Homo sapiens: one gene and its partners. The protein of the gene in region 5 purifies or fractionates together with the protein of the main gene of each other region. This does not show direct contact. Each region holds a gene or a part of one and is shown on either strand. Other genes may lie near its edges.

Region 1 (4,531 bases), on a different chromosome or scaffold from region 5:
CAATTAACCTAGTCAAACCAATTTTACAAATAACTCGCATTGTTGTAATTGGTAACTTCAATGCTTAGGTCCGAAACAAGAGGGATTCATTAGAATATCTGGATTTTGGCCAGGTGCGGTGGCTCACGCCTGAAATCTCAGCACTTTGAGAGGCAGAGAGGGGTGGATTACTGGAGGTCAGGAGTTCAAGACTAGCCTGGACAACATTGTGAAACCCCGTCTCTAATAAAAATACAAAATTAGCTGGGCGTGGTGGCATGCGCCTGTAATCTCAGCTACTCAGGAGGCTGAGGCAGGAGAATTGCTTGAACCCGGAGGCAGAGTTTGCGGTGAGCTGAGACCGTGCCACTGCATTGCAGCCTGGGCAGAAAGAGCAAAACTCCATCCCCTACCCAAAAAAAGAAAAAAAGAATATCTGGATTTTAAAAGAAATATGATTTGAGATGTTTATGAATCTCTAAACACGTTTAAAACATGTAATTCCAGTAATAAGATGCTATAGATACTCTAAAACTTAATTCAGAACATTAAGTGAATATTCAGAGCCTTAACTGAAATCACATAAATACATAACATTAATTAGAAAACATAATTCCATTTCAATTCAGATACTAAGCAAGGATCATTCACTGGTTAAGTGATTCATACCTGTATAGAACCCTCCAAGTGGGCATAAACCTGATTCATACCTCAGTAAAATTAGAAACACAGATCATGATTTACGATTGCTTTAAACATCTAAAATGGCCAAGGTTAAATCGGTAAGTATCAAAAATCTGTAATACTGGCTGGGCAAGGGGCTCATGCCTGTAATCCCAGCACTTTGGGGAGCCAAGGCAGAAGCTTGCTTGAGGGCTGGAGAATCACTTGAGGCCAAGAGCTTGAGACCAGCCTGGGCAACACACTGAGACCCCCATGTCTATATTTGTTAAAAAAAAAAAAAACAAAAAAAAAACTGTAATACTGAGAAAACTTCATAAGAACTGCTGAGCAAGCTTTAAAAACTCTCATGTATAATTTTTACTTATAAAAATATTTATATACATTTTTATTTTATACTGTATAAATACATGCTATTTTTAAGAAATGAATATATTCATTGTTGTAATTCAAAAAAAAAACCCCTCAAGATAATCTGCTTAAACACTTTCATGGAATGTTAACCAAGTAATCCTATTAAATCATTAACTTATTTACATATTATTCCTAAATTTACTTCACATCTCTAGGAAGACTAGATTATCAAGTCACCTTGGGGCATAAAACTATTGTTTTGCTGACATAGATACAAAAAGAAAATCAAGGTCTCTTTTTAGAAAGGTAGTTATATCGTAAAAAGTAGAGAGGTAGGTAGCTTCCAATGATCTTGTGCTTCCAATGATTCTGTACTTCCAAAAGAAGGACAGCTATTAAAAGCACCATGTCTTCATGTCCCATATGGTGTATTTACTAAACTCAATTAAATTTTTAAAAAATAATGACAGCCTGCCTTTATCAGACATCAACAAAGTTGACAAAAATAGTAAACTACAATGTAAATGATAAGGTGATAATTATTAAAATACAACTAAATGTAACTGAAAAAAGTTTTTTTCCTAAATGATCAATCAAAACCTTTCACTGAAAGGTATGAAATAGTCATCTAGGACGGTGAGAGAATACATGCGCTAGGACAGGATAAGGCAGTATGGCTGCTAGCCAGTATTAATGACTTCCCTAACAGCAAGAATGATAAAATTTATAAGATTAAGTCCTGCCCTACTTTATAAAATGTTGCATAAAAAGACTTATACTTACCTCTGGTGGTGGTTCCTGATCATTCTTCCATGATGCATCTGATCCCTTATCCCTGAGTGGGGTGGGGATGGGAGTCAAAAAAGTATTCATCACAATTCTATTAAGTGCTCATAACTTAAAAGTACAGAAAATAATAAAGTAAAGGACATGAGTTCAACCTTTAATTTTGCAATACAGTTATGTGTCTTTTACCTTATTTCAAAAGATGTGGGAAGCTCCTAAGAAAAACACAAAAGTTGAGCAAGTAGAAATATTAGGATTAGGGAACTGGAATGAGAAGCCAAGGCTATGGTGTGCAGTGGAAAGCAGATGGACAGCTCTTTTGATTTTTGTTTTCATAATATTTGCAGTTTTCACAAAACTCAGTTTAAAAAAAATGCTTATTTCACGCCAACTGTAGATCAGAAGTTGTTCCATGTGCGAAGGACATAAAAATGACTATGAGGCATTCCCTTTTCACAGATTTTACAGGTTTAATGGCAGAGATATCAATATGAATTATTTTCTCCTCAGTTTACCTGAGGAATGTCAGCAATCCTCTATGAGTAACCAAGGCTTATTCCAACACTGATTCTCAAAGCAGTGAGGGTCAAACAAAGGCTAACTATGAATAGTTGGAGGAAGAGGAAGAGAAGCTGCTTTAAAGATTCTGAAGGACAATATAATGACTGGCATGTGTGAAATGTGTAATTGCAGCTGAAAATCAACAACTTTTGGTGGAGAGTTTTACACTTTACATCCAACAAAAGTACAGATATCTATTATGAGCAGTATAATTTGTGAAAGCTCATTTTTAATCTTTTTAATTTTGTTAATTTCATAGTTTCAGCTACTATTTTGTTATTCCATTATGTTAAAATATCACAAAGTAAAATATTACAAAGTATTAGGACTAGATGTCCTTATTGTTTTAAACTAGATCTCAAAAATAAATGAGATTCCCAGGAATTAAGGCCATTAAAATCAATGTACAGATGTCAGTTTGCTGGCACAACATGAAAGTTATTAAGTTTGCTTTAAATTTTTGATTCGGAACTTTGACATTATATATGAGCCATTATCAATGGCTTTTCCATCACTTAAAAGAAAAAAGCATTTCCTCAATTGTCATTTCACACATGGGCCTTAAATATATCTCTGGTATTCCTTTCTGCACATATGACATCTCATGATCTGGACTGCTGTTAGCCTGGAATCACAGACATAAATGGGAAAAATTCCCCAACTAGTGCGTCTATTACAAAAAATCAAAATCTACTAAAGGAAAGATCAAGCAACATTTCAAAAGGCACTTTTAACAAGACAGTAAGTACATGAGAAACTAAGATCAAAATAGCCTCATTAGAGAACAGTAAGCTGGAAAGGAGCTGAACTTCTCTACCTCAAAGACAAAGTACTCCACCAAGTTCCCATGACAGATGCCAAAATGAGGTCTAGAATACAACAGTTTTCCTGGGAGAGGGAGGTTTCTGCAATATAGGTCTAATTTCCCAATTCACTGATTTACTACTGCTTCTTAATAGAAGAACTGCAAATCAAAACCAAAGACTGAGTCTATTATCTAAAATCTATTTAAAAACCATCTTCAGAAAACCTCTTCAAATTTATCTGTTTTAAGCTAAAATACTCTATTTGTTAAAAAGCTAAATATATGGCATATCCACAGCAGTATCTTTATATTCAAAGCAGGATGAAATGCTAAATATTTAAAGCATTTTAGAACATATTAATATCTTGAAGACTTTATGTGTATTTAATTCATCTTTCTTGTCAGTGTTATTTAAGAAAATAACCTTATGCAATGTGAAGAATAACTTAGGCAAAATATTCCTCCAGATCTTTATGTAGATTCTTAAACATGAGTTAAATCAATTATCAGGATCAAAATTTTCATCTCTGAAATAAATGAAATTTGGTGACTTGAGACTTGATTTAACATGTAAGTGGTATAAGTAATCTTCTTATGCCATGCAACTGGGGTTGGTACCTTTGACATAATACCAAAGTTACTCAGTGACCAAAGTTCCTTTGTTTTCCTGCAAAAACAACATCTATAAAAATGTATCGCCTAGGTTTTAAGTCTCCAATAAAAGAAGAGCTAGAACTAAAAGGAACTTCTGTGTCAAACTGAGTGCAAAGTCTTTCTGGATTTAACCTTCCCCCAGTCTTTGGCAGTCTTTTCTTCCACTCCCAATTTGAAAATATTTTTAGTGGCTCATATTCATTACATCATTCGAAAGCATTCAAGTTATTTTTATTAAAAAAAAATCTTAAATTCATATGCTATTTGCTGATATAAAAAATTAAATAACATAATTATAACAAGTTTAGCTGATACAAACAGCTCTACAACTAACAGCTGGCAACAGCTAACATTTGAAAAATATTCAACCAATGGGAGCACAAATATAAAAAAATATTGCGGTCACATGCCACAGAAATCACTTAGCATTATTGATAGACAAAATGGAGAGCACTGGTTTGTTGGTTAGGTCAACTCCATACACCGTAACTTTCTACACAATTTTTCAGGGACACGTGTTAGTTGTCTCTTCTACAAACTTAAAATTTATAAGCAAAATAAAGAGATAACACTCATTTTTTTTCTCTTGAAAACTATTTTAAAGTTTTATTGAAGAGCAAGGCCCCTAAATAGAATCCAAAGAGAATTTTACTTAACTGAAAAAAAAGTTATTAAGAAATGATAATAATATTAGTACTAATACTAAAATAG
Region 2 (3,500 bases), on a different chromosome or scaffold from region 5:
ACACTGTATGTGTGTGTGTATATATCATAGGATCGCTTAGTATTAATACCACATAGATACAATTATAATTTGTCAATATAAAATAAATAAATAAATAGGACATTCTCTCTTTTTTTTGAGATGGAGTCTCGCTGTCGCCCAGGCTGGAATGCAGTGGCGCAATCTCAGCTCACTGCATCCTCCACCTCCCCGGTTCAAACAATTCTCCTGCCTCAGCCTCCCGAGTAGTTGAGATTACAAGCACCTGCCGCTAAGCCCAGCTAATTTTTCTATTTTTAGTAGAGACAGGTTTTTACCATGTTGGCCAGGCTAGTCTCCAACTCTCGACCTCAAGTGATCCACCCGCCTCGGCCTCCCAAAGTGCTGGGATTACAGGCGTCAGCCACTGTGCCCAGCCTAGATACTCTTAAAGGATCATTTCCTAAGTTTCTATTATTTCAATAAACTGAAAGAACCAGTTTAACTTACAGAGGTAATTCCTAAAAGTTTCTCATTTTATTAACAGATAAAAAGCTCCTATTTTCCAGTGACAACACAGGCAAAAAAAAAAAAAAAAAAAAGACTATAAGCACACTCACACCACTGATACCAACCATGAAACTAATCCTGACTTAGCTATAAGGCTGTAAGACTAGTGCTTTCTCCTTTGGTTTGAATCTCTTTCTGTGATATAGTCAGTTATTAACCAATAACCTAGAAACATGGAATTAAACCCAAACCCACAAGTCCACCAAAATTTCTCTGTCTCTCTTTTTTTGTCTTGATTAAGAAAATGTCTATATTATCATCTCTCAGCTCCTCTTTAGCCCTGCCAGTCTGATACAGGCAGCAGAGAGAACCCTTTCTGGACTTCTGCAACTTTGCCTGGCTCTGCTCCCACATACCAGACTCCAAGAGCATCACAAAGCTATCACTGCCATCACTGTCCACTGAAATCCGGTCTTCAGGGCCACTGCTATCCAATGAGACACCATCAAATGACTGTTGAGATACCGTCCTCTTCATGGAGAAAAATCGGAGTCGTGCAGCACCTCCACTCACTGGGGCTGCCACCCCCTCATCTGTCTTGGCCATGGGCTCCCTGTTTAAAAAAAAAAACAAAAACCACAAATGTGGCTTTGGAGACATGTTTATTCCCATCCACTTACAATACCCATCCCTTTCAGCTCAGACAACTGGATAAAGTTCCCAATATTAGGAACATACAACTTTGACATTACCTATTACTGGCTGTAAAGAGATCAAGTCATTTTTCAATCACTGGCCTTTCTGAATCTTTTTATTCCAACATCGCTAACTGCATGGACAGCGCTCTCATATCAACATTAAATGTCAAGTTTATTCAAGGTCATCCCAGACTCAGAAGAGACCAGCTACCTACTGCTCTGGTGCTGATGAATGGCACCTGAAGCCACCTGCATTCATTCCATAAGTATTTAGTTGCTTCTGTATGTAAGGCACCATACTAGGCACTAGGCAGGAGTGGGAGACGGATAAATTGATGAGTAAGACATCCCCAGTTCTAGACAACATCAAAGAGGAAAAAGGACAAGGAGAAGAGGATCAAGAGTGGCTTTGTGGTAAGAAATAACATTTGAGGTGGTCCTTGAAGGACTGTGAAAGTGAGAAGAGGGTATTCTATAGGCAATGGCATAAACAAAGGCATACAGCCAGAAACAAAAAGAAACTGGTAAGAATAATAGCTCTGCCCAGCTGAAGCATAGGTTTTGTCAGGGAGAGCAATGGAAGATAAAGTTAAAAAGGCATTAACACAGTGAAAAGAAACCTTTAAGGACCTTTAAATACCACCCTCCCATTTTACAGATGAAGAAACTGTCCCAAGGTTACAGTTAAAGGTAGAATTAAGAAAAACTCAGGCCGGGCGCAGTGACTCACGCCTATATTCCCAGCACTTTGGGAGGCCAAGGCAGGCAGATGGCTTGAATCCAGGAGTTCGAGACCAGCCTGGGCAACATGGCAAAACCTGGTCTCTACAAAAAAATACAAAGATTAGCCAGGCATGATGGTGCGCGCCTGTAGTCCAGCTACTGGGGGCTGAGATGAGAGGATCACCTGAGCCTGGGAGGTCGAGGCAGCAGTGAGCCGAGATCACACCACTGCACTCCAGCCTGGGCGACAGAGTGAGACTTCATCTCAATAAAAAAAAAAAGCAAATTATCAGGCCCCATCTCATTCCATGAATGAGAAATAGGGCTCAGAAAACTATGTTTTTGGTTTTTTTTTTTTTTGAGATGGAGTCTCACTGTATTGCCCAGGCTGGAGTGCAGTGGCATGATCTCGGCTCACTGCAACCTCCACCTCCTGGGTTCAAGCAATTCTCCTGCCTCAGCCTCCAGAGTAGCTGGGACTACAGGTGCATGCCAACACACTCAGCTAATTTTTTGTATTTTTAGTAGAGACAGGGTTTCACCGTGTTAGCCAGCATGGTCTCCATCTCCTGACCTCGTGATCTGCCTGCCTCAGCCTTCCAAAGTGCCGGGATTACAGGCGTGAGCCACCGCGCCCAGCCACTATGTTTTAACAAACCCTGCAGGGGATTCTGAGAGAGAAACTATTAAGAAGCACAGACTGTTACAAACCTGAAAGTTTGGCAAATGCATCAACAACTTTAAAAATGTTTGTAGCATTTGACCTAATAATTTCACTTTTTGGTTTTTATTTTATTTTATTATTATTTTTTTTTTTTGAGACGGAGTCTCGCTCTATCACCCAGGCTGGAGTGCAGTGGCATGATCTCAGCTCACTGCAAGCTCCGCCTCCCAGGTTCAAGCCATTCTCCTGCCTCAGCCTCCCGAGTAGCTGGACTACAGGCACGTGCCACCACACCCAGCTAATTTTTTGTATTTTTAGTAGAGACGGGATTTCACTGTGTTAGTCAGGATGGTCTCATCTCCTGGCCTCGTGATCTGCCTGCCTTGGCCCCCCAAAGTGCTGGGATTACAAGCGTGAGCCACCGCACCCAGCCACTTTTTGGTTTTTATTCTAAAGAAAGATTTAGATATGTAAAATATTCCAAAGATTAAAGTTCACAAAAATAAGGACATTTCATACAGCATTGGTTCTACCTGAGTAAAATGGGAAACAGACTAAATGACTCCCCAGATAGAGGAATGGATCAATAAATTATGATATATCAATTTACTAGAATATAATGGAGCAATTAAAAATCATGTATTCAGCCAGGGGAAGTGGCTTATGCTTATAACCCTAGTGCTTTGGGAAGCCAAGGTGGGAGAGTCACTTGCGCCCAAGAGTTCAAGACCAGCCTGTGCAACATGGTGAAACCACATCTCCAAAAATAAAAATAAATAAAAATCATATATTCATATGCCTAATGAATGGGAAAATATCATAATAAAACATTGAGTGAATAAAGCAGCATGTAACATTGTAGAAATAATATAATCCTATTGTTGTAAAAACAGTATTTGTGGATATTATATGCATAACCATCCACAAGTGCACACATGAATGCAGAC
Region 3 (4,531 bases), on a different chromosome or scaffold from region 5:
CTCATGAATGTAATCCTAGCACTTTGGGAGGCCAAGGCGGCTGGATCACTTGAGGTCAGGAGTTCGAAACCAGCCTGGCCAACATGAGGAAACCCTGTCTCTACTAAAAATACAAAAAAACTTGCTGGGCATGGTGGTGGGTGCCTGTAATCCCAGCTACTTGGGAGGCTGAGGCAGGAGAATTGCTTGAACCAAGAAGGTGGAGGTTGCAGTGAGCCCAGATCGCACCACTGCACTCCACCCTGGGCAACAGAGCAAGTCTCCATCTCAAAACAAAACAAAAAACGAAATTCTTCCTCTCCGCCCCAATTACTGTTAATAGTTTGGTATGTATCCTCCCAGCCATTTTTCTATATAGTTATGTACATATATGTATATAGATAATTAAGTAGTTTTTATATAAATGAATCATAGGGAAAATATGGTTGTCTTACTTTTCTACTTAAGATATATTTGTGCATACAGATCAACTTCATTCTACTATTTTTACTATCTGTATGATATGGAGATGGAGGGTGTGTGTGTGTGTGTGTGTGTGTGTGTGTGTGTGTGTGAGTGTGTGCATGTCTCCTAGTTAACCATTCCTCTCTTAATGGAAGTACAGGATATTTCCAAATTTTTGCTTTTATAAACAACACAGCAATAAACATCCTTGGCTATATCTCTTAATATACGCATATGAGTTTTTTAAAGATGTTTAGAGCCACTTAGTAAATTGGCATATACTCTAAAAATATTGGTTCATACTGCCAAGGTGCCTTCTGAGAAAGATGTATTGATTACATTCCTACAACAACATATGAAAGTAAGCATTTTCCTACACCCTTGCCAATACTGGATTATATCAAGCTTTTAAACTTTTACTATCATGGGTGCAAATATATTATTGTTTTATTTTATAACAACTGCAAACCAAAGAAAATACAACTGCTAGCTATATTTATGCTTAGGGCATAAGAAAGGCTAACAAAGTGAGAAATTATCAAAATGAGAACTTCTAAACTCCAAATTTTACCAGCAACTGTATTTATTGATGTTTCCTCACAACCATGTTTATTTTATGATTATTTTAAAACAACTATGCATATTATGAGTGTAGCTGAGATAGGGAGCAGGGAAGAAGTAAACCGTAGACAAAAGGAGAAAGGCAGAAGAAAAGCCAATGGAGGATTTTAGAACTGGAAGAGAAAACAGTTGTCATCTAAATGAACCCCTTCCTTTTACAGATAAGGAAATGGACACGGTTGCAAACCTGTAGAAGAGGGAAAGACTCCAATCTTCTTGTTCTCAGTCTGGTGCTCTGTTCACTATAAAAGTCTGCCAGAAGGGAAGTCAAACTGGGAAAACCTAAGAAAGGAAACTGTGAAAGACAAAGCCTACAGGAGGGGGTAGCAGATTAATTTTTAATTAGCCCCTTAGAAACCGAAAGAAGCTTGATACCTTACGCAGCTTTTGTAACACTACTAAGGACATCAGTGCAAAATAAGGCCTGTATGACATGTATCTGCTCACACATCAAGTGACTAAGTGTCATAAGCCCTCATATACTCTCTGCAGGTGCTCTCCTTGGTGCTGGAGAAAATGGGAAAGTGTATTAAATGTTATTAATGTCCCTGTAAATTCTGTATCAGATTGAGAACTGTGATTTGTGTTTATATAATTCCTTTTTATTTTTAGTGTATGTATTTTAGGGCTATTATGCTTTACAGTGATCATTGATCAATGGATCTCTACTCCTGAAATAAATTGAGTCTCAAATGACTAGGTCCTTCTCTCAGAGACCAAACCTTTTCACTAAGGGATGGACTTTTCTGAATGCCTGAGAAACTCTCTTAATGGCTACCAGTAACTAAAAATGGATATCATAATAAAAACTGACTCACAACCTATTTTACTAGACTTCACATACACATGTGGTTCAGTTAGGAAGCTGACATCTCACTTAGTAAAGGTGTGGGCCAGACTGCAGCAGGTGAATGAGTCATGGATTTTAAAATTCTCTATTTCCCATGGCTTTAATTACATAGGGTTTTCAGCATGACACTGTATTTTATACAGATCAGGTCACAAATGAAAACTGAAGGAAAAAATAATCCGCTTTACAAAACCTTTATGCCTTTTTCCCACTCTCATTCTCTAATTAACAAATAAGCATTTTCCAACCTAAGACATCAAAACCTTTGGCATGTTAGTTACAATCAAGCTGATATATCTTTGTTATAGTTGCATTAGGGTGAAGTGGAATATGATTAAACATAGCATTGTATTGAAATTATAACATAGCACTGCAATTTGAAAATTTTGACCACTGTATGGTCAGAACTACCTATTGAACATCTGAATCTAACCTTCTAATTTTATAGGTGAAGGGGAAAAAAAGTCACAGAGAAGTACGATAATAAAGTTAGGTTTAGAAACTTTCCTCTGGTCCAGTCTAATGTACTTTTACAACTCATCATTTCAAAAGAGTTATAAATGAGAATCTGTCGAAACAAGAAAAAGAAAGAGAAGGAGAGATAGAGAAAGAGAGAGAGAGACGAGGGAGGGAGAGAGTTGGAAGGGGGAGAGGGAGGGAGGGAGGTAGAGAGAGACAGAAGGAGGGAGGTAGAGAGAGAAAGAGAGAGAGATTGAAAAACAATTTGTTTCAGAAAAGTATTGCTGAGATGAACTGAGAATAATGGTCAGGGTTAGGAGCAGGAAGCTACTCAAAAGAGAAGCATCCAAATCTACACTGAATATTTCAGAAACATTTGTTTTGTCACAGGCGTCTGAACCAAAGCCACTCCATTTTGAATACAGGCTGGGTAAAATAAGACTGAGACCTACTGGGCTGCCTTCCCAGAAGGTTAGGCATTCTTAGGATGAGATAAGAGGTCGGCACAAGATACAGGTCATAAAGACCTTGCTGATAAAGCACGTTTGCAGTAAAGAAGCTGGCCAAATCCCACTAAAATAGGATGGCGATGAGAATGACCTCTGGTGGTCCTCACCATTACAGTCCCACCAGCACCATGACAGTTTACAAATACCATGGGAATGCCAGGAAGTTACTCTATATGGTCTAAAAAGGGGAGGCATGAATAATCCACCCCTTGCTTAGCATATGATCAAGAGATAACCATAAAAATAGGCAACCAGCAGCCCTTGGGGCTGCTCTGCCTATGGAGTAGCCATTTTTTCATTCCTCTACTTTCTTAATAAACTTGCTTTCATTTCACTATATGGACTCGCCCTGAATTCTTTCGTGAGCAAGATCCAAGAACCCTCTCTGGGGTCTGGGTCAGGACCCCTATTTGGTAACAGTCCTACAAGCCAAATTTCCTGCAAGGTGTTAAGGAGACTACTCCAAAAATAACTTTAAAAATTGTAGACTGCATGAAATAGAGTTTGAAGACTCTAAATATCTCCCCAAAAAGTCCATTTTCACTTCCCTCTTCCTCATTTGAAAGGCCATTGTTCTAAAACAGAAAAACAAAAAAGCAGGAAATGGAACTTTTTCAGATGCTACAAGCTGTCCACACTCCCACAGCACAGTGTCCTCCCCACTTGCCAGTGTCTATGGAAACTTCAAGTTGGGAAGTTCAAAGTTAAGGCATCTGTTTAGCCTTCAGCATTTATTCCTACATTGTACTCCAAGACAGCTCCTTCCAAACTTAGGCCAGACTCCAGTGAGGGCAGGCAAGGGAAAAACTTCATCAACAAGGAGGTCAAGGCTTTTTCAATGGATGGCAAGATCTCCTATTTCTTGTGTCTTTTGTGTATCAGTGGAATAGCCACTATTTGTGAATAAAACAACTGCCCACCCACCAGGCTTAGAAAATTATTCAGCAGCCTAGAAACACGGTAGACATAAACTCTGAACAGCATTCCACTACCAACATTCTCAGTGATGTCATCCTCAGCGACCTAGTTAGAAGCCTGAAATGAGCAGGTTTTACAATGGGGTATTGAGAATGAAAGGACAAAAGTTTACTGAAGTGAACATTTAAACTCTTCATTAAGCTATCTTTCTCATCTTCTTCAGAAGCCTCCAGGCAAAAGCAGTCATTTGTATCTTTACTTCTTTCATCACCTCCACTTTGTTAATAAGGTACTACCACTGGAACTCTATCTCAGTTAACCGCTTAGTTACTTCAGGTATCCACTCAATGAAATAATATAATGGTATTTACTATTGCTGTTGTTACTGTTATTATTTTCATTATAAAAGACCAAAATAAATACCAAAATGTTGGAGAGTGGTTATCTGTGAATGGTGGAATTACAAGTACTTTTCTCTTTTTCACTTCTCAGTCCAAATTTTCTAAAATAACATGTAACACTTTTTAAAAACTATTTTTTAAAAGAAATGTGGCTTAAAGAAAATCTCAACAAAATACTAGCAAGTCAAATTAATCCATATATAAAAAGAATTATAGGCCAGGTGTGGTGGCTCATGCCTGTAATACCGGCACTTTGGGAGGTTGACGTGGGTGGATCACCTGAGGTCAGGAGTTTGAGACCAGCCCGGCCAACATGGTGAAAACCCACT
Region 4 (4,067 bases), on a different chromosome or scaffold from region 5:
GGAGCCAATAGATGCAGGGAGCTGCCTTGGTCTTTCGGAAAAGGTCATCCAGCAGCTTGGCAGGTGGTTCCTCCTGGGCTTTCTCTGAGGTGGAAAAAAGTGAACCAGATATGATGCATCTGACCCTCTGTCCCATCCCATCTGGGTCCCTTTCCCACCTACTAGTGGGTATGCGTACCCCATAGCTAAGTACCTACCTTTCTTCTCACTCTTCTTTTCTTTAGACTTCGCACGTTCCTTGCGGCGGCGGTCACGGGACCTTGATCGGGAACGGGGCCCTTCTCGAACTTTGTCCCGATCCCATTCACGCTCTGATCGAGTCCGCTCCCGCCGCTCCATTTCCCGTTCCCGTTCTGCCCACTGTTCCCGCACTGCCCGTTCCTGCTCCCGCTGCTCTGCCCGGGGGTGCTGTGGTGGCTGGACCGGGGGTGGGGGTGGGGGGTGCAGGGGCCGTGGTATTCCCTGCTCCTCTGTCTTAGTTTCAGAGGGACGGTCCACCAAGAGGCCTCGGTGATAATCCAGCTGTGGGGAGAGGAGGGACAAGGACAGTTAGGATAGAGGTGATATCACTCCCACTCAAGGAGCCAGGATGGCCGGGCGCGGTGGCTCACGCCTGTAATCCCAGCACTTTGGGAGGCCAAGGCGGTCAGATCACGAGGTCAGGAGACCGAGACCATCCTGGCTGACACGGTGAAACCCCGTCTCTACTGAAAATACAAAAAAATTAGCCGGGCGTGGTGGCGGGCGCCTGTAGTCCCAGCTATTCGGGAGGCTGAGGCAGGAGAATGGCGTGAACCCGGAAGGCGGAGCTTGCAGTGAGCTGAGATCGCGCCACTGCACTCCAGCCTGGGAGACAGCGAGACTCTGTCTCAAAAAAAAAAAAAAAAAAAAAAGGAGCCCAGGTACCACTTTGAAGCCCCATGGTACAATTAAAGGAACCAAAGCCAGGGAAGAAGAGAAAAGAACAGAAGCTCAGAGACTGCAGGTCTGGCAAGGATCTCAGCTGAAATCTAGCAGATAATGGCTTCCCCTGCCCCTCCTCTCTTTCCTCTCCCTAGGTTTCTTACCTCATCTTGCTCGGCATAGTCAGCACAAAGGAATTTGGGATTGGACTGGGGCCATTTGACCCCGTGCAGAGCTGTGCGGGTGGCAACAGCTTCCTCTACTGTTGAGTACTGGTGGAGGAAGGGAGAAGATGGAGGGTCACAGTGTGTCTGCAACCCTTCCCACGTGCTGCAACACCCTTAAACCTGCCCACACTGGTCACAAAAGGAAATATATGCCATGACCTATAGAATCAGCTTCTTCCCCTCACCGTTACAAAGCAATGAGATTTGATCTTGTCAATCCAGAAGGCCTCTTCCACCAAGGTTCCTGTGCGCCCCAACAACTCCTTTAGCTGGCCTAAAGTGAAAGGACGGACCTGCCAATGAAAATAGACTTTCAGGGTCTAGCAGAAGGCAAGACCACCACCCAATCTTTAGATTTCCCGAGCTGCTGTCACAGGAGTATAGTTTCAAGGTTTGGGGGAGGGCAGAGAGTTTAGGAACCTTGCAGTAAGAATGTGAGAAGAGTGGTGGTGCTTCCCAGCACTAATTGAGACGTTGTATGTGAGGCCTTCTGCAAGTCCTCAAAACAACCCTGCAGGGCAACAGCTTTTCCCCCTCATTTTTAGATGGGTAAATATGTTAAGTAACTCACTCAAGATCAGTGAGTAACTTAATCTATTGGTAGACCAGTTCAACTATGAGTGGAACCTAGGAGGCATAAGCCTAAAGCTCAAACTTAACCACTAAGCAAGCTGGGATGGTGAGAAACAATGACTTACCAAATTGGAGATATGGACAATGTTGCTAATCTTGCCCCGGGGTGGGGAGGGCACCTGGGCAGTTCGGACTGGGTCATCAATGGTAATGGAAACTCCGGACTTCTGCTGGCTAATGGAACGTCGAGTTAAGGTATCTCCTAAAGTCACTATCAAGAAGACCACAAGAACAGCTTTTGGTAGGAAGCAATACTGGCTCTTTTCACCCTCAATGTAACTCTCACGGTTCCCTTTCTTTTATACCAAGCAGCCACTCCTTAATCTAAACGTGCAGAGCACCTATAATCTGCAAAGTACTGTGCTAGGCTAACCTCCTCATCATGGAGATTCAAAGATTAAACAGAGTCAAATCTGGCCCTCAAGTAGCTTACTTAATATGTAGGAGAAAGATATGATATACGAAAAAATATAATGAAAGGCAGGAAACATTCAAAGCTTTCAGCGATCCAAATGAGGTGCTCTGAGAATTCAGGGAGCCGCATTACATTTCTCTCACAATATGTCACTCACCTTTCTTTACTTCATGCTCTGCAGGTGGGGGCAAGGCCACCTCTACTGACACCTGGGGAGGTACAGGAGGTTCTGCTTCAGGTTCCTTCTCTTCTTCCTCTTCTTCCCTCTGCCCATTCTCCTGGCCCTCTGCAGGTACTACCTATCAAGGTGTCAGAGAACACAGCAGGTCTGTTAAACACCAAACTGGCATATTCTTTTCAGCCTCTGGTTCCCCGGTAAGAGTAGCAGTCAATCTAGCATGTTCCTTCCGCTAGGGGTATTTCGTTATCGGCTCACTTCTACCAGATCCTGGGATTGTTAGTGCCTCAACTTTGCCTTGAGGAAAACTAAGACAGGAGTTAGTAAATTTTTTCTGTAGAGCAAAGCAGTACTTCAGGTTTTGCAGGCCACATAGTTTGTTGCAACTACTCAACTCTGGTGATGTTGTAGTGAACAAACAGCCACAGACAAAAGTGAATGAACTCGTGTGGTTGTGTTCCAATCAAACTTTATTTGTAACAGGTAGCCAGCTGGATTTGGTAGTCTGACCCCTGAAAGTGTCAGTCAACCCAACCCTCTGCACAGACAGGGAAGTTCCCTCCAAAGACTTTATCTCAGCTCCTCAGCTAGCTGCTCTGCATCTACTGCTCCCACCTTTCCCCTGACACTGGGGTGCAGAAGCCTTACCTGAGTGACTGTCCGGCATATTTTCAGCCCCTTGTCATGGGTCCCATCATCGCCATTACGCTCTGTCTCATCCTCAGAGATGCGAGAGTCATCAGCATGAAGATCCACAACAGCCTCCTGCCCCGCCAGGGGTTTGATGTCGGGGATGAGGCTCTGGGACACAGATACCCCCCACCCCGTTACACTGGGCCCATGTCTACTCCCACCTTAACAGGTCTCATCCTCCCTTCCCTGGCTCCTCCCACCTCACCTTTAGTGATTCAGTGGTGATACTGATGGAAGGTTTCTTCTGTGTGGTGGCTGTGCTGGCTCCCCAGCGTCGTTTCCGACCAGGCTGGCCCCCCTCTGTGTCACTGTTTCCAGCTGGCACCCCCTTGGTAGCTGCTGTCCCCAAGAAATAGACCCAACAGTTAGATGGTCTCAGGACCTCTGCTAGTTCAAACCGTAATACCTACAGGTTACCTCTGGCTGGAGTTTTGGTAAAAGGTTAACTTAAAGAAATCATATTTGGAGGCTGAGTGTGGTGGCTCACACCTGTAATCCCAGCACTTTGGGAGGCCAAGGCGGGTGGATCACGAGGTCAGGAGTTTGAGACTAGCCTGACCAACATGGTGAAACCCCATCTCTACTAAAAATACAAAAATTAGCCAGGCGTTGTGGTGCATGCCTGTAATCCCAGCTACTCAGGGTGCTGAAGCAGAATTGCTTGAACCCGGGAGGCGGAGGCTGCAGTGAGCCAAGATGGTGCCACTGACTGCACTCCAGCCTGGTGACAGAGCAAGACTCCGTCTCAAAAAAAAAAAAAGAAAAGAAATCATATTTGGGAACTGGGGAAACCATGGCTTCAGACTGAACACTGATCTAAAAGCAGTAAGGGAGGGGTAGCTAGTTTGATGAGCCGTTTAAACTTTTAATGGTAGACAGTAATATCAAGTAGTGTGGAAGAAAAACTGAGAAGGACATGTAAATGCAGAAGAAACAAGAACACTATGTGATACTAACATCTAGGCAGAACTAAGATCATGATGGGATCTGGTCTTCCTTTAATTTTCACACTACAGAT
Region 5 (4,531 bases):
GGATGTTCCACCTAAACACTGTGCTTTCATTCCATCAACAATGAAACATCCAGGAAAGGAAACAACAAGTGACTCTAGAAATTCACTAGTTAGACAGAATCTCCTTGGGAATGATTTAAAGAGGGAAAATGTAAGAAAACCTGGCAAGACTAAGAAGAGTCCTCAAGTGCAAAAAAAGTATAGTTGACAGTTACCAGAGACAGATCATCCTTACCAGCCTGGAGGAATATTGCAGAGGAAAGAGCTTAGGATCTTGAATACTCTCTTATCTCCTGTATTTACCACCATTTCCTCTCTTGCTGAACATTCCTAGAAAATGGAGAGGAGTTTGTCACAACTGCTCTTTGATGATAGCCATGGAGAATGACAGGGGCCCCAAGGCAGATGGCATCAACCTCATCAAAGACCAAAAAACAAATAAACGAACAAAAATCCCTCCGGTAGGCAGTGAAACACCACAAAAAAAGCAAGGGCTATAGATGATATACCAAGAGCTACAGATGGATGAGGTTGGACAAGTCACATAACCTCTGTGTCAGTTTCCTCATCTGTTTGTTGTGAGGAATAAATGAAATAATGCCTGTAAAATGCCTGTCAGGTAGAAGTCACTGAAAGGAACAGAAGTTCCATTCCATCCCCCTAAGGAAAGACAGGGAATGGCCAGAATCTTCCTAGCCAATTGAGTAGTGCTTTCAAGGAGAAATCAAGAGAAAACACTACTTCTTGGATATTTTGGCTAAGTAGTCATTTGAAGTACAGTTGACTGGTTATTTTATTTTAAATCATATCTCATAGACTCTTCCCAATCATAGGCTGGCTGTGTAGTTTTCTGAATTTTGCTCTGGTATTCTTCTTCTTTTTTTTTTTTATTTTTATTTTTTATTTTTTTTTTGAGACTCCAGGCTGGAGTGCAGTGTCACGATCTTGGCTCACTGCAACCTCCGCCTCCCGAGTTCAAGCGATTCTCCTGCCTCAGCCTCCTGAGTTGCTGGGACTACAGGCGCCTGTCACCACGCCCGGCTAATTTTTTGTATTTTAATAGAGACGGGATTTCACCATGTTGGCCAGGCTGGTCTCTAACTCCTGACCTCAAGTGATCCGCCAGCCTCAGCCTCCCAAAGTGCTGGGATTACGGGCATGAGCCACTGCGCCTGGACTTATTATTCTTAATAGTATTTTATCTTATGAGCGAAGATAAGAGCCCAAGATGGTTTAGTTTACTGATTCTGCAAGTGCTATTTCTATTAATTCCTTGGCATACTGCAGTTTGTATGATGGCTGCACTCTTGTTAATAAGCTTCGTCTTTCTGAATTCTGTTGCTCCATAGGGAGCTGGGAGGCTGCAAAAGGTGGCCCTGTAAAAATCTTTGCATTTATAATTTAATAAAGGGGACATTGTAACACTGGAACTCCATATTTTAAATGAAGAGCTCTGTGTCTATTTTTTCTCCTCCCCCATTTCTTTCTTTCTATAAACAACAGTGGTGTGTGTGTGTGTGTGTGTGTGTGTGTGTGTGTGTCTGTATGTTTGAGACATTCAAGTCACTTCCATTTCCACCCTTCACCCTGAGTGGAGCTCAGGGTTAGCCATCATTGTGCATATTTTGTGGTCAAACCGACTCTGTAGGCTACTGAAATTGTTTTAAAAAAATTGGGGCCTTTACTGGCCAGGCACGGTGGCTCATACCTGTAATTCCAGCACTTTGGGAGGCCAAGGTAGGCAGGTCACCTGAGGTCAGGAGTTCAAGACCAGCCTGGCCAACATGGGGAAACCCCACCTCTACTAAAAATACAAAAATTAGCCAGGTGTGGTGGCACACGCCTGTAATCCCGGCTACTTGGGAGGCCGAGGCAGGAGAATTGCTTGAACCCAGGAGATGGAGGTTGCAGTGAGCCAAGATCGTGCCACTGCACTCCAGCCTGGGCAACAAAGCAAGATTCCGTCTCAAAAAAAAAAAAAAAAAATGGGGCCTTTCACAATAAGTACCCACAGAAGCTTTACCCTCTAACTACTTTTTAACTCAGAGCTGTGTGTTACACACCAACCTTCTGGAGGACTCAAAAATGGATCCCTTTCCTTTCACATTATTGAGTGATGGACCAGTGGCACCTAAGGAAGAGCTACCACATTTTCAGGCTGTGTGAGTCTGGACTGGATCATAAGAAACAGGAGAAAAGCAGTCAAAGAAGGTGGTACCAAATCATGGCAATTCTGGTAGACCTCTAGCTCAATGATCTAGAGGTGGAGGCCATTTCACCTTTTGCTCAGAGGGGCGATGGCTAGTGAGAGACTTGCTTACTTCCTCATAGTCAGAGCAGCACTAAACCCTGCCCAAACACAGATACTTGAGAGAGAGGAAGACTTCCTCTTGTACAAACTGGATTTGTTCTAAAACAGAGAAAGAGTAGAGGCAGCTTCCAGAAGGACCTGTCTTATAGGAAGTAAGAGCAGGGGACAAGAATGAAACAGATGGTGGGTCTAAGCAGGGAATGTATCCACCAAGAGCCTGCAACAAAACTAAAGATAAAATGTTGCCTGCGATTTATTCGGCTAAGAGAAGTACACCAGACATGGTTTGTTGGGATGCTTCTGACCCCATTTACTGGTCACAGTACTCAATTTATTTAGGGTTTTATTTTTTATCCTGTAATTTGAGTCTTTGATTGTGAAGAGGTACTTAATTATAATTTGCCACAAGAATAATTGTGGTATGATTACAGGGCTCTCAATGAGTTGGTAGTTCCTGAGAATAGAGTAGTATTATTTGGTTACCACTACTCCTGAGTAAATGCATAATTGTAATGTTAAAATGAACCTCTTTGAGTTTAGAGCTAAAACTGAGTGTTGGGAAGGGCTGATTGTAAACTCATCAATTTGTCACTCCAGTGAGAGACCATTTAAACCAGGGAGTCAGGGTGTGTGGCAGGGTGGAGGGAAAGGTTTGCACTCTTGCCCAATTTTTCTCAAAATCTAATTTACAAAATATTGAATTAATCCACCTCCAGAAGATAGTGGCATACACATGGTAGATAAGTGGCAAAGCGATCTTCCAGAACACCCCTGGTGTTCCTTTGACGTATTTTCGTCTCCCCAGCATGAGAATAGAACCTCCTACACCACAGGAAAGAGCAAAATAACAGTGTGGATAGCCCCCAGGCTTTGATAAAATTCACTCCCTTGCTTTCCTAGTGTGAGCAATAATCTGCTTAAAAAGTAGAAAAAAACTGCTGGCTTTATTCATTCTGCTTCCACGGTGCCACCAAAAGCATAAGGAGTTTACTTAAAAAATAGACACATTCCCACCCCCACCCCCCCACCAGAGGAAAAATCCCTACCACTAATTAAACTTGAATGGAGGGCTGGTGGTTTTTTCGTTACTTACTTAGTGTTTTTTTGTTGTTGTTTTTGATTTTGTTTTTTGAGACGGAGTTTCGCTCTTGTTGCCCCGACTGGAGTATAATGGCACAATCTCGGCTCACTGCAACCTCCGCCTCCTGGGTTCAAGCGATTCTCCTGCCTCAGCCTCCCGAGTAGCTGGGATTACAGGCATCCACCACTACGCCCGGCTATTTTTGTATTTTTAGTAGAGACGGGGTTTTGCCATGTTGGCCAGGTTGGTCTTGAACTGTTGACCTCAGGTGATCCGCCAGCCTCGGCCTCCCAAAGTGCTGGGATTACAGATGTGAGCCACCGCGCCGGCCTAGTGTTCTATTTTTATGACAGCATTTGTTTTCACTTTATCTTTCCAATGAAAGTTCGGAATTAGTAATAATATTACACTGTGCATAAACTGTAAGTGAATAACTGATATGAAGTGTTGCTTGGTGTGAATAAAAAAGCCAGTGGTGACTTTGGGAACTTTATTTGTCTTTCTGTGTTTCAGTTACCTAAATTGAATCCTTCTGGAGTATTGTAGGTTTGGGGAGGCTAAATAAGTTGTGTTTCATAAATGAACAGAGGTGGCATCTATATCAGTAAGACAGTTGCATCACTTTTGCATGATGCTGTCTAAAAGAACTAATTTAAGCTAAATGGGGAAAAGGTCAGAAAACAACAACTACCCCCCCCCCACCAAAACCCACCAAAAAAAATTATGTTTTCAACTTTAGAACAAATCTTCTATCCTTTGTAGCTCAGTCAGTGGGTGTGGGCAAAATCAGTTGGGCAGCAGTTAGTGTGTGTCCAGAACTGCAGGTGCAGCCTCCATATCCTTATTAGTTCCCTTGGTTACAGACCCCAGTGGGACAATGTTTGAAAAATTATATTCACCGTCTAGGAAATTGGGAACTGAAAGTCCAATATCTGCCTCAGTGGAGTTCTGGCACCTGCATTATCCCTTCTGGGTATATCAAGATCAACAGCTGCACAGATACTTTTGCTTTTCACAGATTCTACACATATCATATAAAGGTGAATAGTGTAAAGCTACCTCTACACCTTACCAAGCACACAGGTGCGTGCCATTTAACATCTAGAGCATTCCATTGCCTTATACAAGAACTCAGTTTATATGAGCTCACAACATCGAAC
Region 6 (3,467 bases), on a different chromosome or scaffold from region 5:
GCATGAGGCATTCAAGACCTCATCTCTACAAAAAATAAAAAATGAGCTGTGGCCGGGTGCGGTGGCTCACACCTGTAATCCCAGCACTTTGGGAGGCCGAGGCGGGTGGATCATGAGGTCAGGCGTTCGAGACCAGCCTGGCCAACATAGTGAAACCCCGTCTCTACTAAAAATGCAAAAAATTAGCTGGGCATGGTGGCGGGCACCTGTAATCCCAGCTACTTGGGAGGTTGAGGTGGGAGAAATTCTTGAGCCTGGGAGGTCGAGGCTGCAGTGAGCCATGATTGCACCACTGCACTCCAGCCTGGGCAACAAAGCGAGAGCCTGTCTCAAAAACAAAAAAAAAAAGAAGAGTATAGTAGATGCTCAATAAATAAGTACTCAGTGACAATGAATAGCATCTTCTAACTAGACTGCTAATTCCTGGGCTGTTTCTCCACTGGGCACCCAGCATGTAACTGCTGAATTAATGATAATTGGGTAGCTGGATGGTGGGAGGGGGCTGATCGTGACGGATCTGTGGGCAGCGGGCAAAAGAGGGCAGTAGGTGAAGGCTAGGCCATGGAAGGGGAAAGGCCCTTTGTTTTATTTTTATTTTTATTTTTTGTTGAGACGAAGTCTCGCTCTGTCGCCCAGGCTGAAGTGTAATGGCACCATCTCCACTCACTGCAACCTCTGCCTCCCAGGTTCAAGTGATTCTCCAACCTCAGCCTCCCAAGTAGCTGGGACTACAGGCTCGCCACCACACCCAGCTAATTTTTGTATTTTTAGTAGAGACGGGGTTTCACCAGGTTGACCAGGCTGGTCTCGAACTCCTGACCTCAAATGATCCACCTGCTTGGCCTCCTAAAGTGCTGAGATTACAAGTGTGGGCCACCGCACCGGGAAAAGGCCCTTTGTATGCAGAAGGCAGCCCTCCCTCTTCCATGGGATTCAAGACGCCTTTCCTTCCCTTCCTTTCCTTCCCTTCCCTTTCCTTCCTTTCCTTTCCTTCCCTTCCTTCCCACACAATGGCACTACTTCATAGGATTGGAAGAGCTCATTGAGTTTATTTAAGGAATACAAAGGGGACTGGAAGTGTCACTGGCATGTATACACACACACACACACACACACACTTACACACATGCACACATCCTAAGCAACATTGCTCCAGAGGTTGGCATCATCTGCTCGAGGTCTTCAGATTTCAGAGTCAGGTGTGAATCTTGGGGACTTGAGGAGATCCAGGCTATGCAGAAGAAACGGTGATGGGGAGGGGTCCAGCAGTCCTCCCCCTGCCCACCAGGCCCTAGGAACCCTGTTCCCTCTCCCTCCCTGAAAGCCAGCAGCCACTGCCATCCGTGCCTATCTCCCTCCCTCCCCGCTTTCCCTAGGGGCAGTCCCAGCTCACCTGGCCACCTGAGGATCACCTGGTGCTCCAGGTGCCCATGCGGCCCCCTCCTCCCCAGGCTGGGTCTGGCCCATCGGGATTATCCATGTTCTCATAAGAGTCTGCATCTGGATAGGACCAGGGAGGAGGAGAACATGGGTGGCACTGGAAGTAGGCTGGAAGGCAAAGTCAGCCCAGGGGACAGCAGGGGACAGCGGCAGAAGCACCCACCTTCCTCATGATTGGGTCCAGGCTGGCCCCGAATGGAGCGGAGCTGGGGGGCTGCATACAGGATTCCTCTCATATCCTCATAGGACTGGGACCCTGCTTGGGCGGGGGATGGAGAATTGGAGGCTAGGGCATGGGAAGTACAGCCTACGGTAAGGAGGAAGACTGAGGGGCAGAGGAAGGTGAGGAGCATTACCCATGCTGTGCTGGGAAGGGGTGATTTGGTTAGCATTGAGTTTGGGGCCCCAGTTAGCTGTAGGGTCAGGGTTAGATATGGGTTAGATTATGGCTAAGGAAGGGGTCAAGAACAGAACTGGGCTGGGCGTGGTGGCTCATGCCTGTAATCCCAGCACTTTGGGAAGCCAAGGCGGGCAGATCACTAGAGGCCAGGAGTTGGAGACCAGTCTGGCCAACATGGCGAAACCCTGTCTCTACTGAAAATACAAAAATTAGCCAGGTGTGGTGGCAAACGTCTATAATCCCAGCTACTCAGGAGGCTGAGGCATGAGAATCGCTTGAACCTAGGAGGCAGAGGTGGCAACTGCACTCCAGCCTGGGCAACAGAGGGAGACTCCGTCTCAAAAAAAAGAAAAAGAAAAAGAAGAAACTGGAGGGAGTCGGAGTCAGAGTCATGAAGAAGCTGCAGAGTAAGCTGGGGTCCAAGTTGAGGTCTGCACTGGGGCTGAGGTGAGGTGGAGATCAAGTCCAGGCTGATACTGCATTGGGATCGGTGTTGATATTCACAGTTAGGGAGGGGGTAAATATTGGGGGTCAGGATGGGGGATGGGGCTCAGGATGGGGGATGGGGCTCAGTGTTGAGGTGAGAGGAGTCACAGGATTGGGTTCGGGTTTGGGGTCAGGGTCAGGTCAAAGTTGGATCTGGTGTCAGAGCTGAGGCCAGGTCACCCAAGCTGGGCAAGGCAGTCTGATTGAAAGCATCTCTCACCCAGGGAGGTTGCTTCCCGGCTGGGGTCCCAGGCTGACCCATGAGGGCTCAGGAAGTCTGGAAAGGGAAGAGGGAGGTTACTATTCCTCCTGGCCTCCAGGTGTCCTCCGCCTCCCCCCTGGACTGTTGCCATCCTCACACACACCCATTGTCCTGGCGACCGGCTGGGTCAGCTCTTCATCCTCGTTCTCATAAGACTCAGCTGTGGCAGAAGAGAGAGAACTCCAGGGACCCCTTCTAGGAGTGTCACAGCGCTGCAATTACACCTAAGTCTCTGAGGTCCCACAAAGGCCCCAAGTTACCGTTGGAGAAGGAGTCTTCATCCTCAGGACCCAGGGGCTCATCCTCAGGGTTCTCGTAGCCGCTGCCATCTGGTGGAGAAGGAGGGGTGTCCATGGGAGTCCACAGGCCACCGCAGAGGTGGGGGGCCACGGGGGAGGGCAGCCTTACCCTGGGAGAGCTGGTCCTGCCCAAGGTTGGAGTCGTTCTCATAGAACTCGGAGTCCTCCTCACTGTCAGGTTCCTCATAGCCCTCCCCTTCCTCTTCTTCTGGGCCTGGGGGTTTGGGGATGGGGATGGGGAACCGAGTCATGCCCCCTCTCCTCCAGGGCCCAGTCCACTATTCGGGCCACAGACCGCTCCAACCCCCTCCATGTGGGGAACGACCCTTCCCTCTCCCAGTCATTCACCCACTCCCGGCGGGCTCCGGGACCCCAAGGCTCCATCCGCCTGGACGTCGCTGCTCGGGTTTCCATAAGACGGGGCAGTGCCCCCCAGGCCTGCGGCCCAACGCTGGGCGCGTCCTGGTGAGAGGGGCATTGTAAGACGGGGTCAGAAGAGATGGGGGCGGTCAAGGCTAAGGGTCCGCGCGGCGGGGCACGGGAAGAGGATGTTTTGGGCTCTGCGAATGGACTCTGGGTC
Region 7 (5,025 bases), on a different chromosome or scaffold from region 5:
CCCTAGTAGCTAGGATTACAGGCGCCTGCCACCACGCCCAGGTAATTTTTGTATTTTTAGTAGAGACGGGGTTTCACCATGTTGGCCAGGCTGGTCTTGAACTCCTGACCTCAAGTGATCTGCCCGCCTCGGCCTCCCAAAGTGCTGGGATTACAGGCGGGAGCCACCAAGCCCGGCCCATACAGTGATTTTTTAAAATCAGACTGTCCAGTAGTCTTATTTGTGCTAAGTGGAAATTAGGGAAAGGGTCAGAGAAATAGGGATTTCCTTTTGCCTTCAGTAGTATCCTCATGAACCTGCGTCATGGTGTTGTTAGGTGTAATTAATGAAGGTTTCTCACAAGATAAAATGTTATTTTGAGGACCACGTCCGTGGATTGGAGGAAAGGCAGATGGTTAGCTAGTGACGACTTTATTATAATGCTAATTCAGGAGTATCTGGGTCTCTAGTGCTGAGGAAAACTGAATTTTCATGCAAAGGGCATCTATATTTTCACATCTGTATCTTTATCCATCTAGCTGTGCTCTTACTATTTTGTTTCTACGGTAATTTGCTATTTCTTTTGCACGACAATTGCCCAATGAAATAATTCAGATACTTCGTGCACTTTGTCACGCAGAAGTTTTCATGTTACTCTCTGGAAAGGCACTTCCCAAGATGTAGCTAATAAACACTGTATCTTTGGAACATTTTTGTTTTCCTTTTAACTTGTAGCTCCTAGCCTGGAAATTGATACTTTTGACACTTGAACGTTGTTCATATAAAAACACTGTGAAATCAACATACTGTCTTTGAGGAATGGCATTGCATGCGTCCTTTTGAGAAGCCATCTTGTAGTTGAAGGAAAGCAGCAGGACGGAAACCAGACTTCCCCCCCACGGTTCCCTAAAAGTCACGGATAAAGAATGAAAAACCGGGACTAGTTAAGCCAAGGAGAGAAGAGCAAGTGTTCCCGGAAGGGGGCGCGATGTGTTGAGGTTAACAAAGAGAAAGACAGCTGCGGGGTCAGCTAAGGTCTCCGCTTTCGCTACCGACCCAGACTGCTCACCTTCACAAACTCACGTTTTCCTCAAGCGGCACCCTCGGCAGCGCTCAAGTGAGAGTATTCCATCCTTGGAATACTCCGAGAAGGTTCGAGCCAGAAGTTGGATTGCCTGAAATGCCGCTTCCAGCGCACTAAGTAACTTGAACTGCGCTAAGCAACTGGCCAGAATTGGTTTGGTTTGGTTTGACCCTGGGGTTCCTCCGTAGTCTGTAAGTGGAGTTGCGAACTCAACCCCTTCTCCAAGGCGGGAGTGTTTCTAGGAGGGAACATACTTCCCCTTAAAGGAAGATCACGTTGCTAAAGTAAAAAATTTGAAGGCGCCCTATGTGTAGAACACTTACGTTCTTGGCTTTCTGGCCACTATAAAGATGGGTCGGGAATGGCGCCAGCTACGTTAAAAAGTAACGTGCAGGAATGGTTCAGTTGCCCGGTGTTGACCAGAGTAGAGATGGTTTTGCCCACAAAAAAAATGGCGCCGAAACATGTCAATCCGCACAATCACGTGTTCACAAACCTGGATGAGAGATGGTATGGCTTCAGATGACAAACGGATGTTATTATTCTTTACTTCCGGGTGAGACAAATCGGGCGCCATCTTGTCTTGTTCCCGAAGAAGTAGAAGCATCGAAAGCGTTGGAGAGGTGTTACCGGAACGGCGGCGACAAGGGTGTTCCCGAACTAGAGTGGGTAAGTGATGGAGAACAATTATACGTGGGCACTTGCCGGACCATTACAACGTTCTTGGTTTCTGTGGCGAAGGTAGCATAACTTAAAATAGGCTGCGTACGCTGCTTGGCGCGACCGCTGGAACCTCATTCCTTTAAAGCGCTGCGGTCCGCCAGACTTGGTAAATCAGAGCGCTGCTTTCGCTGAAAAGGAAATGTCCTTGTTAAAGAGAGTGCTCACGGTCCCATCTTCTCACAGAGTTTCCTCTCGGACGAGAAGGGACTAATTGTTGGGTTCCTGACCGGCCGTTAAACACTGCGCGTGCGCAGTGGGAACCCCCTTGTGGGAAGGGGGTTCATGGGGGCGGAGGAGGCGGGGGCTCGCGACCTGGAGCTTATACCCTTTGAGGCTCTGACTACGCAGGCGCAGTTCCTTAGTTTGTGTTTTTCGTGTGTTCTTACCCAATGATGGATATTATGTGTTAAGCTTCGCTAAAGGTAGTATCCAATATTTCAGTTTTTTACCCTGTGGTGGATAGTATCGTCATCTGAACAAATTGAGCATTAGACAAATTTGTTTGTGGGTTGTTAAATTAACATTCTAGCTTAAGATTTTAATTCAACATTAATCTTTTACATCTTTTTACTTCCCCCTGCCCCCAAGTAAAACAAAATAAACTTAGAATTCCTCATTTGAGTGCAGCAGGGCGAAAACAACAGCAACCAGACTACTAAAGATTTTACTTGTGGAATTTTTTTGTAAAGTGGCAAAGGGCTTATAGAGAAAACAGTTCTTTAAAGATGTTCTTGAGAGTTTTTTTTTTTAACTTACTAATAGACTTTATGTTTTAGAACAGTTTTTGTTTACGTTGAGCACATACGACGTCCCCACTACACACACAGTTTATCTTCTTATTAATAGATGTTAGTATGGTACATTTGTTGCAACTAATGAACCAATAATGATAAATTATTAACTAAGGTCCATAGTTTATTCCTACTTCCTCACATTTTACCTAAAGTCCTTTTTCTGTTCCAGGATGCCAGCTAGGATATCACATTACATTTAGTTGTTGTATATTCTTAGGCTGTATATTCTTGGCTGTGACAGTTTCTCAGGCTTAACTAGTTTTTGATGACTGTTAAGGGCTGACTTGTGCCCCTCTAAAATTCGTATCTTGAAGTCCTAACCTCAGTACCCCAGAACGTGACTGTATTTGGAGAGAGGGTCTTTAAAGAAGATGAGGTCACTAGGGTGGACCTTAGCCCAATATATTAATAACTGCTGTCCTTATAAGAAGAGAGTAGGATACAGAGGGATGATCATGTGAAGACATAGGGAGAAGACAACCATCCACAAGCCAAGGAGAGAGGCCTTAGAATGAAATCAACCCCATAGAGCTTACACTATACGCCTCCAGAACAGTGAGGAAATAAATTTCTGTTGCTTAAGCCACCCAGTCTTTGGTACTTTGTTATGGCAAGCATACCAAACTAATACAGTGACCTTGACATTTTTTGAGGAGTATGGTCAGGTATATTGTAGGGTGCCCTGCTATTGGAATTTGCCAGACGATTTTCTCATGATTAAAATGGCCTTACGGACTATATCAGGGGAAGATCACAGAGGTAAGATGCCCTTTTCAACACATGCTATCAAGGATACATACTATCAAGGTGACTTATCACATTATTACTGACCTTGATCATCCTTCTGGAGTAGCGTTTGTTAGATTTATCCACTGTAAAGTTACTTCCCCCACCCCTTTTTATACTGTTCTCTTTGGAAGGAAGTCACTTTGCAGAGCCCACGCTTACTGAATGGACAGTTGTGCTCTTCCTCAGTTAGGGTGGAATATTTACATAATTTATTTGGAATTCTCTGTGGGAGATTTGTGTCTTCCCTCACATTTATTTGTTAGTTTATTTTATCATATCCTTATGGGCTTGTGGATGTTTATTACATAACTTATATTATAATCCAGTACTTCTTTATTTTGTTGCTCAAATTGTACCAGCTTTGGCCATTGGCAGCTCTTCGAGTTGTCTACTGTTCTCCTTTGACATGTTCCTATCAATTTTTTTTTTTTTAGCACTTTATTGCTTCCTGGCAGTATACATGCCCCAGACTCATCTTTTATATTTCCTGTCGCAGTCCTAGAGTCAGCTATTTCTTTAAAGATCTCTGATTCCTTTTATTGAAGAATGGTATTAAAACCAAGTTCTCGTGCCTAGGTGTGCTTGTTGCTACTAGGGTGTCATTTTGGGCGCTCTCGCTACATTTATTTTTAAATTATTATTGGGGGGGTATTTATAACCGACTCTCCAATTCTCCAGTTTTTTTTTTTTTTTTTTTTTTTGAGACAGAGTGTCACTCTGTTTCCCAGACCGGAGTGCAGTGGTGGCACAATCTTGGCTCATTGCAACCCCTGCCTCCCGGGTTCAAGTGATTCTCCTGCCTCAGCCTGCTAAGTAGCTGGGACTACAGGTATATGCCACCATGCCCAGCTAATTTCTGTATTTTCAGTAGAGTGGAGGTTTCGCCATGTTGGCCAGGCTGGTCTCGAATTCCTGGCCTCAAGTGATGAACCCACCTTGGCCTGCCAAAGTGCTGGGTTTACAGGCATGAGCCGCCATGCTTGTCCTCCACTTTTAAAATAGTCTTTTGAGCTACAAGCTGCAAGTATTTCAGTATATACTAAAATGCATGTCACATAAAGTAGCAAAATTTCTGTTTTCCGTATTTCGAATGATTACAAGATTAATTTTTACCAGTGCCATTTCCACCTAATCTGAATTAAACAAATAAATTCTTTTTTGACTTTGAGGTCAGTCAACTCATGTAAGACTGAAATGTCAGGGGTGAAGAGGATTGTTGTATTTTCTGGCTTCTCAGCTTTGTGGTTGATTTGAGAAATATTTCATCCTATGCATCAAATGATAGATGTGTTTCTGTAGCTCTTTGATTTTGTAGTTGATGCTCAAGGACTTTAAAATACCACATTTTAATTCTCATCCATCTCTGTCACAGTCTCTGAGTGACTTTTGTAAATATTAATGATTGTCATTTTGGCCACACGGGGTGGCTCATGCCTGTAGTCCCAGCACTTTGGGAGGCTGAGGAGGATGGATCATTGAGGCCAGAAGTTTGAGGATAGCCTGGGCAACATGGTGAAACTCCATCCCTACTAAAAAATACAAACATTATCCTCGCGCGGTGGCATGCACCTGTAGTCCCAGCTACTCGGGAGGCTGAGGCATGAGAATTGCTTGAACCTGGGAGGTGGAGGTTGCCGTAAGCCGAGATCACACTGC

Evidence for each region.
Region 1: the proteins of BTK (region 5) and NAF1 purify together in Homo sapiens (co-immunoprecipitation; one large-scale study listed by IntAct). This does not show direct contact.
Region 2: the proteins of BTK (region 5) and BLTP3A purify together in Homo sapiens (co-immunoprecipitation; one large-scale study listed by IntAct). This does not show direct contact.
Region 3: the proteins of BTK (region 5) and TRIM44 purify together in Homo sapiens (co-immunoprecipitation; one large-scale study listed by IntAct). This does not show direct contact.
Region 4: the proteins of BTK (region 5) and ACIN1 purify together in Homo sapiens (co-immunoprecipitation; one large-scale study listed by IntAct). This does not show direct contact.
Region 6: the proteins of BTK (region 5) and CD19 purify together in Homo sapiens (co-immunoprecipitation; one study listed by IntAct). This does not show direct contact.
Region 7: the proteins of BTK (region 5) and PNISR purify together in Homo sapiens (co-immunoprecipitation; one large-scale study listed by IntAct). This does not show direct contact.

Annotation. Positions count from the first base shown.
Region 1 is NC_000004.12:163,135,402-163,139,932, forward strand, and holds part of NAF1 (H/ACA ribonucleoprotein complex non-core subunit NAF1), read right to left. Parts: intron 1,850-4,531; coding exon 1,798-1,849; intron 1-1,797. UniProt on the Homo sapiens protein: RNA-binding protein required for the maturation of box H/ACA snoRNPs complex and ribosome biogenesis.
Region 2 is NC_000006.12:34,861,583-34,865,082, reverse strand, and holds part of BLTP3A (bridge-like lipid transfer protein family member 3A), read right to left. Parts: intron 1,082-3,500; coding exon 885-1,081; intron 1-884. UniProt on the Homo sapiens protein: Tube-forming lipid transport protein which probably mediates the transfer of lipids between membranes at organelle contact sites. May be involved in the retrograde traffic of vesicle clusters in the endocytic pathway to the Golgi complex.
Region 3 is NC_000011.10:35,721,090-35,725,620, reverse strand, and holds part of TRIM44 (tripartite motif-containing protein 44), read right to left. Parts: intron 1-4,531. UniProt on the Homo sapiens protein: May play a role in the process of differentiation and maturation of neuronal cells. May regulate the activity of TRIM17. Is a negative regulator of PAX6 expression.
Region 4 is NC_000014.9:23,061,101-23,065,167, forward strand, and holds part of ACIN1 (apoptotic chromatin condensation inducer in the nucleus), read right to left. Parts: intron 3,389-4,067; coding exon 3,255-3,388; intron 3,158-3,254; coding exon 3,005-3,157; intron 2,478-3,004; coding exon 2,336-2,477; intron 1,975-2,335; coding exon 1,829-1,974; intron 1,424-1,828; coding exon 1,316-1,423; intron 1,176-1,315; coding exon 1,068-1,175; intron 523-1,067; coding exon 198-522; intron 85-197; coding exon 1-84.
Region 5 is NC_000023.11:101,375,518-101,380,048, reverse strand, and holds part of BTK (tyrosine-protein kinase BTK), read left to right. Parts: intron 1-2,025; exon of another isoform or gene 2,026-2,190; intron 2,191-4,531. UniProt on the Homo sapiens protein: Non-receptor tyrosine kinase indispensable for B lymphocyte development, differentiation and signaling. Binding of antigen to the B-cell antigen receptor (BCR) triggers signaling that ultimately leads to B-cell activation.
Region 6 is NC_000016.10:28,936,905-28,940,371, reverse strand, and holds the end of CD19 (B-lymphocyte antigen CD19 isoform 2 precursor), read right to left. Parts: intron 3,350-3,467; coding exon 3,236-3,349; intron 3,102-3,235; coding exon 2,997-3,101; intron 2,918-2,996; coding exon 2,849-2,917; intron 2,749-2,848; coding exon 2,692-2,748; intron 2,604-2,691; coding exon 2,547-2,603; intron 1,700-2,546; coding exon of another isoform or gene 1,697-1,699; coding exon 1,604-1,696; intron 1,501-1,603; coding exon 1,409-1,500; 3' UTR 1,394-1,408; intron 1,232-1,393; 3' UTR 1,030-1,231; downstream 1-1,029. UniProt on the Homo sapiens protein: Functions as a coreceptor for the B-cell antigen receptor complex (BCR) on B-lymphocytes. Decreases the threshold for activation of downstream signaling pathways and for triggering B-cell responses to antigens.
Region 7 is NC_000006.12:99,421,922-99,426,946, reverse strand, and holds the start of PNISR (arginine/serine-rich protein PNISR), read left to right. Parts: upstream 1-1,638; 5' UTR 1,639-1,732; intron 1,733-1,832; exon of another isoform or gene 1,833-2,076; intron 2,077-5,025.